2 separate regions of the Homo sapiens genome follow, and region 1 is linked to region 2. The links come from fine-mapping of genetic effects on gene expression. Tissue or cell type: fibroblasts. Region 2 holds a variant in brackets; the other region holds the start of a gene. All regions are shown on one strand. Distances are between the middles of the regions.

What was found. PIP is the estimated chance that this variant, and not a neighbour inherited with it, causes the effect.
Region 1: it holds the start of UGGT2, and the variant in region 2 is fine-mapped to the expression of UGGT2 in fibroblasts (GTEx, PIP 0.93).

What each region holds. Positions count from the first base shown.
Region 1 is chr13:96,049,301-96,057,560 of GRCh38, forward strand. It overlaps UGGT2 (UDP-glucose glycoprotein glucosyltransferase 2), which reads right to left and starts at 4,101. Exons shown (of 39, transcript NM_020121.4): 1 at 3,855-4,101. The coding sequence starts at 4,012. RefSeq lists an enhancer at 3,863-4,362.
Region 2 is chr13:95,924,849-95,933,161 of GRCh38, forward strand. It overlaps UGGT2 (UDP-glucose glycoprotein glucosyltransferase 2), which reads right to left. Exons shown (of 39, transcript NM_020121.4): 18 at 2,365-2,488; 19 at 2,180-2,278; 20 at 832-926. Among named protein-coding and RNA genes, the nearest start is that of UGGT2, 120 kb to the right of the region's middle. The variant G/A (reference allele first, on the strand shown) is at 3,753.

The DNA.
Region 1 (8,260 bases), 120 kb after region 2:
TCAAATTAGGTATTGATGGGACATATCTCAAAATAATAAGAGCTATTTATGACAAATCTGCAGCCAATATCATACTGAATGGGCAAAATCTGGAAGCATTCCCTTTGAAAACTGGCACAAGACAAGGATGCCCTCTCTCACCACTCCTATTCAACACAGTGTTGGAAGTTCTGGCCAGGGCAATCAGGCAGGAGAAAGAAATAAAGGGTATTCAATTAGGAAAAGAGGAAGTCAAATTGTCCCTGTTGGCAGATGATATGATTGTATATTTAGAAAACCCCATCATCTCAGCCCAAAATCTCCTTAAGCTGATAAGCAACTTCAGCAAAGTCTCAGGATACAAAATCAATGTACAAAAATCACAAGCATTGCTCTATGCCAATAACAGACAAACAGAGGGCCAAATCATGAGTGAACTCCCATTCACAATTGCTTCAAAGAGAATAAAATACCTAGGAATCCAACTTACAAGGGATGTGAAGGACCTCTTCAAAGAGAACTACAAACCACTGCTCAAAAAAATAAAAGAGGACACAAACAAATGGAAGAATATTCCATGCTCATGGATAGGAAGAATCAGTATCGTGAAAACGGCCATACTGCCCAAGGTAATTTATAGATTCAATGCCATCCCCATCAAGCTACCAATGACTTTCTTCACAAAATTGGAAAAAACTACTTTAAAGTTCATATGGATACAAAAGAGAGCTCGCATTGCCAAGACAATCCTAAGCAAAAAGAACAAAGCTGGAGGCATCACGCTACCTGACTTCAAACTATACTATAAGGCTACAGTAACCAAAACACCATGGTACTGGTGCCAAAATAGAGATATAGACCAATGGAACAGAGCAGAGCCCTCAGAAATAATACCACACATCTACAACCATCTGATCTTTGACAAATCTGACAAAAACAAGAAATGGGGAAAGGATTCCCTATTTAATAAATGGTGCTGGAAAAACTGGCTAGCCATATGTAGAAAGCTGAAACTGGATCCCTTCCTTACACCTTATACAAAAATTAATTCAAGATGGACTAAAGACTTAAATGTTAGATCTAAAACCATAAAAACTCTAGAAGAAAACCTAGGCAATACCATTCAGGACATAGGCATGGGCAAGGACTTCATGTCTAAAACACCAAAAGCAATGGCAACAAAAGCCAAAACTGACAAATGGGATCTAATTAAAGTAAAGAGCATCTGCACAGCAAAAGAAACTACCATCAGAGTGAACAGGCAACCTACAGAATGGGAGAAAATTTTTGCAATCTACCCATCTGACCAAGGGCTAATATCCAGAATCTACAAAGAACTTAAACAAATTTACAAGAAAAAAATTAAACGACCCCATCAAAAAGTGGGTGAAGGATATGAACAGACACTTCTCAAAAGAAGACATTTATGCAACCAACAGACACATGAAAAAATTCTCATCATCACTGGCCATCAGAGAAATGCAAATCAAAACCACAATGAGATACCATCTCACACCAGTTAGAAGGGCGATCATTAAAAAGTCAGGAAACAACAGGTGCTGGAGAGGATGTGGAGAAATAGGGACACTTTTACACTGTTGGTGGGACTGTAAACTAGTTCAACCATTGTGGAAGACATTGTGGCGATTCCTCAAGGATGTAGGACTAGAAATACCATTTGACCCAGCCATCCCATTACTGGGTATATACCCAAAGGATTATAAATCATGCTGCTATAAAGACACATGCACACACATGTTTATTGCGGCACTATTCACAATAGCAAAGACTTGGAACCAACCCAAATGTCCGTCAATGATAGACTGGATTAAGAAAATGTGGCACATATACACCACGGAATACTATGCAGCCATAAAAAAGGATGAGTTCATGTCCTTTGTAGGGACATGCATGCAGCTGGAAACCATCATTCTCAGCAAACTATCACAAGGATAGAAAACCAAACACCTCATGTTCTCACTCATAGGTGGGAACTGAACAATGAGAATACTTGGACACACAATGGGGAACATCACACACCAGGGCCTGTTGTGGGGTTGGGGGAGCGGGGGATAGCATTAGGAGATACACCTAATGTAAATGATGAGTTAATGGGTGCAGCACACCAACATGGCACATGTATATCTATGTACCTGCACGTTGTGCACATGTACCCTAGAACTTAAAGTATAATAATAAAAAAAATAGCTGGGACTTAATTAAACTAAACAGCTTTTGCACGGCAAAAGGAATAGTCAGCAGAGTAAACAGACAACCCACAAAACGGGAGAAAATCTTCACAATCTATACATCTGAAAAAGGATTAATATCCAGAATCTACAAGGAACTCAAATCAGCAGGAAAAAAAAAACAGTCCCATCAAAAAGTGGGCTAAGGACATGAATAGACAATTCTCAAAAGATATATAAATGGCTAACATGAAAAAATGCTCAACATACTAATGATCAGGGAAACACAAATCAAAACCACAATGCGATACCACCTTACTCCTGCAAGAATGGCCATAATAAAAAAATAAAAATAAATAATAGATGTTGGCGTGGATGCAGCGAACAGGGAACACTTCTACACTGCTGGTGGGAATGTAAACTAGTATAACCACTATGGAAAACAGTGTGGGGAGTCCTCAAAGTACTAAGAGTAGATCTACCATTTGATCCAGCAATCCCACTACTAGGTATCTACCCAGAGGAAAAGAAGTCATGAAAAAGATAGTTGCACAAGTATGTTTATAGCAGCACAATTCACAAGTGCAAAAATGTGGAACCAATCCAAATACCCATCAATCAACGAGTGGATAAACTGTGGCATATATATGATGGAACACTACTCAGCCATAAAAAGGAATCAATTAATGGCATTCACAGCAACCTGGATGAGATTAGAGACTATTATTCTAAGTGAAGTAAGTCAGAAATGGAAAACCAAATATAGTATGTTCTCACTGATATGTGGGAACTAAGCTATGAGGATGCAAAGGCATAAGATTGACACAATGGACTTCGGGGACTCGGGGGAAAGGTTGAGAAGGGAGTGAGGGATAAAAGACTACAAATTGGGTGCAGTGTATATACTGATGGGGTGATGGGTGTACCAAAATCTCAGAAATCACCACTAAAGAACTTACTCATGTAACCAAACACCACCTGTTCCCCAATAAACTATAGAAATGAAAAAAAAAAAGAACTTTTAGCATCAAATACATGAACTTATGTGGAGTCATGGAGTCTCTTTTTAGGGACACACACTGTTGCTGTGGTGAACAGCCATTAAGTCATTGGTGTAAAACTTCATTTTTGCTAAGAGAAAGAACTTTCTAATTTTACTCAACTAGAATACTAAAGGGCAAAATGCAATAGCTACAAGTTTTGTTCTGCAGAGTAAATGACAGGTCATGAACTAATTCCGTTGGAAGAGATACAGGAAAAATATTACCTTGCAGGAAGCTGCCCTCCCCATAGTAAGCCTAGGAGCTGATGGTATGATGTCATCATTACGAAACTAGGTACTTTAAGCACTGTCTGAACAGAACTGCCTACCCCAGTAGAAGCTCTTGCGTTAAGTGCCACGCGTAAATGCTAATACATCCCAACGTATTAAAGCAGGGCAGGGAAGCTTTAAAAATCGTAGGTAAAGTAAGACTGAGGGGGAAAGGAACTGCAAGTGAGTGCTGCACGGGAACCGAGAAGCCGCCCCGGGTCGGGAAGGAAGGAGGTGGTGATGCTCAGGGCCAGAGCGGGGGCGTCTGGAGAACCCGGGTGGGAGCCAGACACCCGCTGCGAGCACGAAGAAAGCGCGGCTGAGGGTGGCAGCGCGCCCACACCCGCCCGGACGAGGGCCCGGCCCGCACCCACCTTGCCTCCAGCAGCAGCGGGGTCTCGGGCCACTTCGCGGCCAAGTGGGCAGTCACCGACTTGGACGCGGCGACCGTCCCGGAGCCGAGCTGCGAAAGCCACAGCGCTGTGGAGCCTAGTAGCAGCCGCACCACGTTCGTGGCTTTCGCTGGCGCCATGGCACGGAGAGAAAAGCGCGAGTCCCTCGGACCCGGTACCCACAGTCTGTGGCCGCCACGCTTCGGCCGGCTCTTCCCGCTGCGCGGCTGCCCACTTCCGGTGGGAGGAGCTCGAGTCCGTTACTGGGTGCCGGGTCCAGACCGGCGCATGCGTGTCCCGCTCCGGCGCGGTTTAGTGGGTGCGGCCTGGAGAGCCCACGCCAGCCGGACACTGGGCCACGTCGGAGCCGCCGGGGCGGCGCCGGGTTGCTGAGCGGCGTCACAGATGCTCCCGCGGGTCCGCTCCCGCGGGTCCATTCCCAGGACTTTGGGTTCTCGGACAGAGGCCTTAGGACACGGGGCGGGAAGCTGGCTCTCCAGACCGAACTAGGGCTCTGGAGTTGCCAAAATCTGGAAGCAAAGTCAGGACCACTTGCATATTGTCCACCTTTTACATAGGAGGAAAATAAGTCCAGTTAAAGTTGAAGTCCCCACCTCACGCAGTTCTCAAGTGTTACTACAGGTTGGAATCACCTGGGAGAGCTTTTATAAGGCCGCCGCCAAGGCCACGCCCCGTACCTGAGAATCTCGGGAGGGGGGGTGAGATGCGGCATCAGTAGTATTAGTTAAAATCCGCAGGCCGGGCGCGGTGGCTCACGCCTGTAATCCCAGCACTTTGGGAGGCCGAGGCGGGCGGATCACGAGGTCAGGAGATCGAGACCATCCTGGCTAAAACGGTGAAACCCCGTCTCTACTAAAAATACAAAAAATTAGCCGGGCGTAGTGGCGGGCGCCTGTAGTCCCAGCTACTTGGGAGGCTGAGGCAGGAGAATGGCGTGAACCCAGGAGGCGGAGCTTGCAGTGAGCCGAGATCCCGCCACTGCACTCCAGCCTGGGCAACAGAGCGAGACTCCGTCTCAAAAAAAAAAAAAAAAAAAAAATCCGCAGGTGATTCCAGTGTCCAATCATGTTAGGAAACCCGTGACTTACGGGTGGCTCTCAAACTTTAACCACTTGCTTGTTAAAACACTGCAGAGTGGTGGGCCTCCCCACAGTGTTTCGGATTCAGTAGAGCCCTTGCGGGGGCCGAGAACTTGCATTTTATTTCTCCCAAGTTCGCAGATAATACTAGTGGCTAGAAATCACACTGGAGCCTTTTCCATTGGAAGGTGTGGTCCAGGGTAGGCTTCAGCTGTGAGCTCAATGGAAATGCAGAAGCTCAGGCCCCGCCCCAGACCTAATGAATCAAGATCTCCAATTTAACGGGAACCACAGGTGATTCCTATGCACAGGAAAGGTGGAGAAGAGTGATTTAGAGGATTACATTTAAAAGTGCACAGAAAAGTGCCAATAAGCCTGAGCATGGTGGCTCACGCCTGTAGTCCCAGCACTTTGGAAGGTCGAGGCGGGAAGGTAGCTTAAGCCGAGGAGGTAGAGGCTGCAGAAAACGGTGATTGCGCCACTGCCCTCCAACCTGGGCGAAAGAGGGAGACCGTGTCTCAAAAAAACAAACAAACAAAAGGCCAATACGTGATAGTTGTTTTGTCAGAGTAAAATATATGGTAAAAGAGTTTAGCGGATGCACGGATTCATTGCTTTTTTTCTCTCCTGTTACTCCTTTGCCCTGCAGGGAAGCTGGATCTCTTGAAGTTGCGGAAACATAGTCATTCCCTTTTTTCGTTTCATTTGCTTAGTCAGTACCCTTCCTTAGAAAACCCTATTCCGCTAAGCAGTTCCACGAATTTCCAGAATAATTTCTCACTTCCAAAGTTTAGCCTTCATTTCCTGATTTATCCTACTTGGTATGATCTATCCTTACTTTAAATTTCCTCTTTATTGTAACTGCCATATAGCACTTAAGTTCTCACTTTAATACTTGAGTACGCTACTTACTTATTTCTCCTGTGAGAGATAGTATATTCCCCCAGAACTCATGCCTTGTTCATCTTTGGCATCCCGTGCAGTACCTAGCACAATACTTCACATTCACATGTTATTTGGGGACTCCATGAAGATTGAAGAACCCTTGCTTTATGGAAAGAATGTAGAAAGCTAAGGCAAATGCACTTCATTTCTATCCATAGTGTATACGAGAAAAATACATTACGAATCTTTCACAATTATTTGCTTTAATTAACTCCCCATTTCCACTCATATTTAGACCGAAATTTTTATTGAGATTGTGGGATTAAGGAAATAAAATATTGACAGTGAATGTCTTACATGTCAGCATATCCAATGGACTGCAAATCTTTAAGAAATAATTGGCCATATAAAAGGCACATTAAATAGACTATTAAAGGACACTAATAAAATGTATATTAGTAAAAATTTCACTATATGTGAGTTCAGAATAGTGAGAATGCTCATTTCTCTTTTAAAGAGAATAAAATTAATCTAATCTAGGCCATCTATGAATATATTTGTTATACATTTTATCTTACATGGTGTTCTCCTAGAAATTTTAATTTGAAACATTCCTCAGAATGATGATCCCCAAGCTTGTTTCCCCATCTACAGAGCAAAAGGATAAGACAATGTGATATTTAAGATTCCTTCTATATGTGATTCCTATGTGCAGATAAAAAAATACTAAAATGCAAAAATTGAGTAAATTAGCAAAGTCCACTCCAGTCAGTGGAGTAGCAAAGTATTTTAAAATCCACTATCAATAACCCTTTGGCACAGATTGGCTTTGAACTACGGACCTAACTCTACCTAAGTCTTTTTAGCAAAATACAATACAAAAGTTATTCACTGCAGGATAAAAGGAATAAAATTGATGAAGGTAGCAGTTTCTATCATATGTGGAAGAAGTGATTAATGAGTGCTTTATAATAAGAATCTTGTGTTTAACAGAATAAATCATCTTGAATTTAATGATATGTATTTAATGATAATAATGGCATGACATGAGTACAAAGTTACTGCCAAATTATTGCATTATATAATAAAATTTTAATTTTCTAAGCCTACATAAAATCCAGTGGGTGAACTCACTTTTAAAAGTATTATTCTGTAGGTTTTCCAGATTTCCCTTATAAGAAAGACCCTATTCTCCTATTCTCGTTTTATTATTAAAAGATCTTTTGTCCTGGCGTGGTGGCTCATGCTTGTAATCCCAGCACTTTGGGAGGCCGAGGCAGGTGGATCGCGTGTGGTCAGGAGTTTGAGACCAGCCTGGCCAACATTGTGAAACCTCATCTCTACTAAAAACACGAAAATTAGCGGGGTGTGATGACAGGTGCCTGTAGTCTCAGCTACTCAGGAGGCTGAGGCAGGAGAATCACTTGAGCCCAGGATGCAGAGGTCGCAGTGAGCCGAGATTGCACCACTGCACTCCAGCCTGGGCAACAGATGGGACTCCATCTCAAAAATAAATAAATTAAATTAAAGATCTTTTTCTTTTTCTTTTCCTTTTTTTCTTTTTTGATATAGATTCTCTCTCTGTCACCCAGGGTGGAGTTGTTTTTTTTGTTTTTTTGTTTTTTTGTTTTTTTTTTTTTGATATAGAGTCTCTGTCGCCCAGGTTGGAGTGCAGTGGTTCTCTTGAGTAGCTGGGACCACAGGCACATGCCGCCATGCCTGGCTAATTTTTTGTATTTTCTGTAGATGTGGAGTTTCACCATGTTGCTCAGGTTGGTCTTGAACACCTGGGCTCAAACGATCTGTGCACCCCTGCCTTTCAAAGCGTCGGGATTACAGACATGAGCCACCGTGCCTGGATATTATTTAAATATCTTAAATACACAAAAGTTTTCTACTCATTCCAGTTGGGAAAAATTTAGAGACTTATGTAATTTGTTACATCACTATTCCCTAGACAAGATTATACCAAAATCATAATCAAACGAGTATGGTTTAGGTTTTTTATGTTTAGTTTTAAGCTTAACTCTTTATAGCTTTTTTTAAAATTTAAGGGTCTGCAAGTTTGATATTTACAGGTTTACATATTTTATTTAAGATAGATAATAAATGCCTCACAAATGTCTAATCCCAGTATGTTTGATGAATTTTTTTAGTGGAGCTTTTTACTACAGTGGCTTTCAAATAGCAAATAAAGGATGTGAAATATATAATTTTTAAATTAATCATTTTGGATGATGTAAGAACTTGAGATTTGCTATTTAACAACAACCATCTATACTTATATGGTTAAATCGAAGTATTTTTAATGGTGGTAAAATACACATAAAATTTACCATTTTAACCATTTTTAAGTGTACAGCTCAATAGTGTGAAGTATATTCACATTGTTGTGCAACCAGT
Region 2 (8,313 bases):
AGAAGCTTGTCCTCCTGCTCCAGTGAAGCCTTCGGATCACTGCAACTATAACCAAAATCTTAAATATAGCCTTATAAGAGAATCTAAGATAGAATCACTCAGGTAAATTGCTCCTAAATTCTTGAACCTCAGAAACTGTTAAGATAAATGTTCACTGTTTACCACCAAGTGGTAATTTGTTATACAGCAATAAATTTATACTTAGCTAATATAAAAACAATTTCATAAAATATTTTGGTTTATGTTTCTTAAGTATTTTTTATCTAGATAAACTTATATATTAACTTAGAAATACAGACAGTTATGAAAGACTACTTTTATATACAGAAATATATCCTCTTGAAGTATACTGGTTTATAATCAATAACAAGAAATTTAATGTTGACTTAAGGCTTAAAATATTCTTCAGTGAGATAAATTTACTTAGTTTTTCTTAAATAATCAGGGAAAGAAAATGCTGCTTAATTATGTGACCAAAAATTGCTATTACTAGCTATTGTTGGTAAATAGTGGATTTCGGGTCACTGAAGTGGTGGTAGGGTCTAGAGTTACTTACTTTGTTTAATACCCTATTTGTAATCAATATGTGGTATGTGTATGTCTGATCACAAGGACTACCAGAGAATATATGTCACGAGTCATAGAAAACAGGTAGGTTTTTCTTTTCCTGAGCAAAGTTACCTGTTTTACATGAAGACTAAATCTGAATTCCTTCGTCTACTTAACTGAAACATTAACATGGAGGGGAAAATATTTAATGTATGTTCTTCATATTGCTTTCCTTAAATTGAAATAAATTAAAATTGTTAGTAAGAATATCTAGGTACTCACCATGTGCTTTAATGCATTAAAAAGAAGTTTTCTCCCAGAAGGCTTATCAAAATCTGCAATAATCCAGAGAGTGACTGCAGAAATTATACTCTCATCTGAAAGTTTCAAACAGTTTACTCAAATTAACTTTTTTTTTAAAAAATAAAACAAAAGCAGGGGAACATGTGCAGTTAACACATTAAAAAAAATTAAAATAATATTTCTGAAAAGCAAAGATTTTTAAAATGTTATGTGTGAATGTATACATGCAAGTACGTATATATACATACAAAAATAAATACATATAAAATTACATATAAAAATGCTACAAGGGTAATTCATTATACAAGCTTATATAAAGCTTCCGGTTAGAAGAGTAACTCATTATATAAGCTTATATAAAACTCCCAGTGTTGGTAAGCAAATCTGCCTTCTAGCTACATTTGTTTAAAAAAAAAAAATTTATGTCCCAAATATATGTAAAACCGTAACAATCAAGCTTATTAGTAGATATAGAAAACAGCAATATGTAGCCAGACTCCTTTATGAACATAAAATCATGGAATCTGTTAGACAGTAATCCAGGAGCCATCTGGTAGAAACTCGGATTTAATCTACAGCATTTACAAGAACTGGTTGTGTGGCCTTTGCTTTAAATCTCTCTCCTATATAAAAGTTTGCCCCTTACAACATAGTTCATTCCATCTGTTTAATGAACTCTCACTGTTAGAAAATTACCACTTCCCTACTGAGACCAAAATCAGCCTTCTTTAATCTTTTACTCATTGGCTCTTGTTTTTATTTCTAGAGCAAAGCAGGCCAAACAAAACAAAGCAAAGCAAAACAAAAACCACCAAATTCGAATTATATTCATCTATCTGAATAGTTAATTGTACCCTAACAAATCTACGGTCCCACTGCAGACTTCTCAGTTTGGCTAAATCCTTTTTCCCAAGTGTGTTACTATCTTGGTCTCCTCTCTTCTGGTTGTAACCCCTACCTTAAGCAAAATATCTGCATGTTATTTAATCAGAATGCAGAAGAATTATTATCTTCTCTGATCTGGTAATTGTACTTTTCTGTATACATTATAAGATAGTTTACATAGTACTGAAAAGATTTTATTCTTTTCTTAAAAAGGTGAAAATAGTTTGTTTAAAAAAGGCAAAAATAAGATAAACAAAGTTAGAATAGAAGGCATTGTTTTCTCAGCACACGTTAAATACTAAAAAATTTACAAACTCTAAAATTGAAATCTAGGCCTCTACTCAAAAATAGCAACATATTAAAATTTATTATACAACTGCCTTATGAACATTACAAGTTTCTATCACTTTAAGAATTCAGGTAAATAAAATATGCTTATTACCGTCTTGGGTTAAATAATACATGTTCTTTGCAATTACAGCACTCTTATCTTGTGAATCCAAGAAAAAGAAAGTAGAGAAATCTTCAACATCAGCAGTTACTGAAAAATTTCAAATTAAACGTTAAATATAAATAAAGAATTCACAACTCAATAAACATTTGTAGAACAGTATAGGATTATTTTACCTGATGTAGATATTAAATTGAGGTACTGCTGGTTAGTACGCAAAATCAAAGTATTTATACGGGGTACAACATTATTCCTATCCATTAGAAAATCAATTGCATTCGTGCGATCATTTAATGTGCCCTAAAAAAACAAAAATGTTATTTAGATAATACAGGCAATTTATATCCATGTTTCAAAAAGTATGCAGATAACACAAAGATTACTTAATCAAAAATAAATAAGCAATTTAGAATTATTACAATACATTTTCTTTCTTTTTTTTTTTTTTTTTTATTCTTCAGTTTGGTAAACATTTAATGAGCTCTGTCTCAGGTGTTGGCAATTTCACTTCACAACCAGAATCATGGTAGTAACCATTTCTTGAGCACCTATTGTGAGCAGGACAATTCTCATTAATTAACTCACTGAATTTTTTTGTTTGTTTGTTTGTTTGCTTTTTTGTTGTTTTTTTAAATTTTTTTAGTATTTATTGATCATTCTTGGGTGTTTCTCGGAGAGGGGGATTTGGCGGGGTCACAGGACAATAGTGGAGGGAAGGTCAGCAGATAAACTTGTGAACAAAGGTCTCTGGTTTTCCTAGGCAGAGGGCCCTGCCGCCTTCCGCAGTGTTTGTGTCCCTGGGTACTTGAGATTCGGGAGTGGTGATGACTCTTAACGAACATGCTGCCTTGCAGGGTCTGTTTAACAAAGCACATCTTGCACCGCCCTTAATCCATTTAACCCTTAGTGGACACAGCACATGTTTCAGAGAGCACGGGGTTGGGGGTAAGGTTATAGATTAACAGCATCCCAAGGCAGAAGAATTTTTCTTAGTACAGAACAAAATGGAGTCTCCTATGCCCACTTCTTTCTACACAGACACAGTAACAATCTGATCTCTCTTTCTTTTCCCCACATTTCCCCCTTTTCTATTCGACAAAACCGCCATCGTCATCATGGCCCGTTCTCAATGAGCTGTTGGGTACACCTCCCAGACGGGGTGGCGGCCGGGCAGAGGCGCCCCCCACCTCCCGGACGGGGCAGCTGGCCGGGCAGGGGCTGCCCCCTACCTCCTGGACGGGGCGGCTGGCCGGGCAGGGGCTGCCCCCCACCTCCCCGACGGGACGGCTGGCCTGGCGAGGGCTGCCCCCCACCTCCCGGACAGGACGGCTGCCGGGCGGAGACGCTCCTCACTTCCCGGACGGGGCGGCTGCCGGGCGGAGGGGCTCCTCACTTCCCAGATGGGGCGGCTGCTGGGCGGAGGGGCTCCTCACTTCTCAGACGGGGCAGCCGGTCAGAGACGCTCCTCACCTCTCAGACGGGGTGGTGGCGGGGCAGAGACACTCCTCAGTTCCCAGACGGGGTCGCGGCGGGGCAGAGGTGCTCTTCACAGCCCAGACGGGGC[G/A]GCGGGGCAAAGGCGCTCCCCACATCCCAGAAGGTGGGTAGCCGGGCAGAGACGCTCCTCACTTCCTAGACGGGATGACGGCCGGGAAGAGGTGTTCCTCACTTCCCAGACTGGGCGGCTGGGCAGAGGGGCTCCTCACATCCCAGATGATGTGCGGCCAGGCAGAGATGCTCCTCACTTCCTAGACGGGGTGGCGGCCGGGCAGAGGCTGCAATCTCGGCACTTTGGGAGGGCAAGGCAGGCGGCTGGGAGGTGGAGGTTGTAGTGAGCCGAGATCATGCCACTGCACTCCAGCCTGGGCAACATTGAGCACTAAGTGAGCGAGACTCCATCTGCAATCCCGGCACCTCGGGAGGCCGGGGCTGGCAGATCACTCGAGGTCAGGAGCTGGAGACCAGCCCGGCCAACACAGCGAAACCCCGTCTCCACCAAAAAATACGAAAACCAGTCAGGCGTGGCGGCGCGCGCCTGCAATCCCAGGCACTAGGCAGGCTGAGGCAGGAGAATCAGGCAGGGAGGTTGCAGTGAGCCAAGATGGAGGCAGTACAGTCCAGCCTCGGCTTGGCATCAGAGGGAGATGAGGGAGAGGGGGAGGGAGAATACATTTCCTTGTAAAAATTACAACTTTTTCCAATTAAGCAATTTTAGATGCAATTATGCCTAAGATAAATTTAATTAAATATATTTTTAAAGAATTTCAGCTTTTATTTTAGATTCGAGGGTACACATGCAGATTGGTTACAACACAGGTGTATCATGTAATGCTGAAGTTGGGGTTATGACTGATCCCATTACCCAGGTAGTTAGCATAGTACCAGATAGTTTTCCAACCCTTCCCTGACTTTTTCCTTCCCTCTCCCCTCTAGAAATCCCCAGTGTCTCTTGCTGCCATCTTTATGTCTATGAGTACCAAATGTTTAGCTCCCACTCATAAGAGAGAACATGCAGTGTTTGGTTTCCTGTTTCTGTGTTAGTTTGCTTGGCCTCCAGCTGAGTCCATGTTGCTCCAAAGGGGACGATTTCATTTTTAATGGGTGCGTAGTATTCCATGGTGTATATATGCACCACATTTTCTTTAACCAATCCACCACTGATGGACACCTAGGCTGATTCTACATCTTTGCTATTATGAATAGTGCTGCAGTGAACATACATGTGTCTTTTTGGTAGAACGATTTATTTTCCTCTGGAGATGTACCCAGTAATGGGATTGCTGGGTTGAATGGTAGTTCTGTTTTAAGTTCTTTGAAACATCTACAAACTGCTTTCCAAAGGGGCTGAACTAATTTACATCCCCACTAACAGTGTATATGCGTTCCCCTTCCTCCTCAGCCTCACCAGCATCTGTTGTTTGTTCACTTAATAACAGCCATTCTAAATGGTACGAGATGGTGTCTCCTTTTGGTTTTGATTTGCACTTCTCTAAGGATTAGTAGTGTTGAACATTTCTTTATATGCTTGTTGGCCGCCTGCGTGTCTTCTTTTGAGAAGTACCTGTTAATGTCATTTGCCTACTTTTTAATGGGGTTATTTATTCTTTGCTTGATTTATTTGCTACTTATGGATATTAGAATTTTGTCGGATATACAGTTTGTGAATATTTTCTGTATATTCTGTAGGCTGTCTGTTTACTCTGTTGCGAGTTTCTTTTGTTGTACTCTTTAATTAATTAGGTCCCACTCGTCAAATTTTTGTTTTTGATGCAATTGCTTTTGAGATCTTAGCCATAAATTCTTTCCCAAGACTGATGTCCAGAACGGTGTTTCCTAGGTTTTCTTCTAGAATTCTTATAGTTTTAAGTCTTATACTTAACTGTTTAATCCATCTTGTTAAGTTTTGAACGTGGTGAAAAGTAGGGGTCCAGTTTTGTTTGCATATGGCTAGCCAACTATCCTAGGACCATTTATTGAATCGAGGACCCTTTTCCCACTAATTTTCATCAACTTTTCAAAGCTAAAATGTTTGTAGGTGTGTGGCTTTATTTCTGGGTTCTCTACTCTGTTCCATTAGTCTATGTGTCTATTTTTGTACCAGTACCATGCTGCTCTGGTTACTGTAGCCTCATAGTGTACTGTGAAGTTGGGTAATACTGTGTCCGGAATTGGTGGGTTCTTGATCACACTGACTTCAAGAATAAAGCTGTGGACCCTCGCGGTGAGTGTTACAGTTCTTAAAGATGGAGTGTCCAGAGTTTGTTCCTTCTGATGTTCAGATGTGTTCGGGGTTTTCTCCTTCTGGTGGGTTGGTGGTCTCGCTGGCTTCAGGAGTGAAGGTGCAGACTTTTATGGTGAGTGTTACAGCTCTCAAAGGCAGCACGGACCCAAAGACTGAGCAGCAGAAAGATTTACTGCAAAGAGCAAAAGAACAAACCTCCCACAGCATGGAAAGGGACCCAAGCGGGTTGCCACGGCTGGCTTGGGCAGCCTGCTTTTATTCCCTTATCTGGCCCCACCCACATCTTGCTGATTGGTCCATTCTACAGAGAGCTGATTGGTCTGTTTTACAGAGAGCTGATTGGTCCGTTTTGACAGGGTGCTGATTGGTGTGTTTACAATCCCTGAGCTAGCCACAAAAGTTCTCCAAGTCCCCACTAGATGAGCTAGACACAGCACTGATTGGTGCATTTACAAACCTCCAGCTAGACACAGGGTACTGATTGGTGTGTTTACAAATCTTGAGCTAGACACAGAGTGCTGATTGGTGTATTCACAATCCCTCAGCTACACATAAAGGTTCTCCAAGTCCCCACTAGACTCTGGAGCCCAGGGGCTTCACCTAGTGGATCCCACACCTGGGCCGCAGGGGGAGCTGCCCGCCACTCCCGCACCTTGCACCGGCACTCCTCAGCCCTTGAGCGGTCAATGGGACTGGGCGCCGCGGAGCAGGGGGCAGCACTCGTCGGGGAGGCTCGGGCTGCGCAAGACCCCACGGTGCCGGGGCAGGGTGGGGTGGGGTGGGGGTGGGGGGGAGGCTCAGGCATGGCGGGCTGCGGGTCCCAAGCCCTGACCCAGGGGGAGGCAGATGAGGCAGCGAGAATTCGAGCACAGTGCTGGCCCAGCGCACCCTCTGTAGCTGCTGGCCCGGGTGCTACGCCCCTCACTGCCCGGGCCGGCAGCGCCCGCCGGCCTGAGTGCAGGGCCTGCTGAGCCCACGCCCACCCGGAACTCGCGCTGGCCCATGAACGTGGCGCGGAGCCCTGGTTCCCGCCCGCGCCTCTCCCTCCACACCTCCCCGCAAGCAGAGGGAGCCGGCTCCGGCCTCGGACAGCCCAGAGAGGGGCCCCCACAGTGCAGTGGCAGGCTGAAGGGCTCCTCGAGCATGGCCAGAGCGGACGCCGAGGGCAAGGAGGTGCTGAGAGTGAGCAAGGGCCACCAGCACATTGTCACCTCTCAATATGATGCCTTCAGATTTGTTCTTTTTCTTGGAATTGCCTTGGCTATTTGGGCTCTTTTCTGGTTCCATATTAATTTTAGAATAGTATTTTCCAATTCTGTGAATAATGACATTGGCAGTTTGATATGAATAGCATTAAATCTGTAGATTGTGTTGGGCAGTATGGCCATGTTAACAATATTTAGTCTTCCAATCCGTGAGCATGGAATGTTTACCCATTTGTTTGCATAATATATGATCACTTTCAGCAGTGTTTAGTAATTATCCTTGTAGAGATCTTTCATCTCCTTAGTTAGCTGTATTCCTAGGTATTTTATTTGTGTGTGTGTGTGTGTGTGTGTGTGTGTGTGTGTGTGTGTATGGCTATTGTAAATGGGACTGCATTCTTGATTTGGCTCTCAGCTTGAATGTTATTGGTCTATAGAAATGCTACTGATTGCTGTGCATTAATTTTGAATCCTGAAACTTTACTTAAGTAATTTATCAGTTCTAGGAGTTGTCCGGTGGAGTCTTTAGGGTTTTCTAGGTGTAGAATCATATCATCAGTGAAGAGAGATACTGGACTTCTTTTACTATTTGGATGCCTTTTATTTATTGCTCTTGCCTGATTGCTCTAAGACTTCCAGTACTATGATGAATAGGAATAGTGAGACTGGGCATCCTTTTCCTGTTCCAGTCCTCAAGGGGAATGTTTCCAGCTTTTCACTGTTCAGTATGATGTTGGTTGTGGGTTTGTCATAGATGGCGTTTATTATTTTGAGGTATGTTCCTTCAATGCAGTTTGTTGAGGGTTTTTATCATGAAGGGATGTTTGATTTTATTGAATAATTTTTCAGCATCTATCAAAATGATCACATTTTTTGTTTTAAATTCTGTGTATGTGGTGAATGACATTTACTGATTTGTTAATGTTGAACCAACCTTTCTCAGGAGTGAAGCCTATTTGATTACGGTGAATTAATTTTTTGATATGCTGCTGGATTCAGTTTGCTAGTATTTTGTTGAGGATTTTTCCATCTATGTTCATCAATGGTACTAGCCTGTAGTTTTTTCATTGCATGTTTGCCAGGTTTTGGTATCAGGATAACACAGGTTTTGCAGAATGAGTTAGGGAGGCATTAATCACTCCTCCTTGGTTTTTTGGAATAGTTTCAGTAGGATTGGTAAC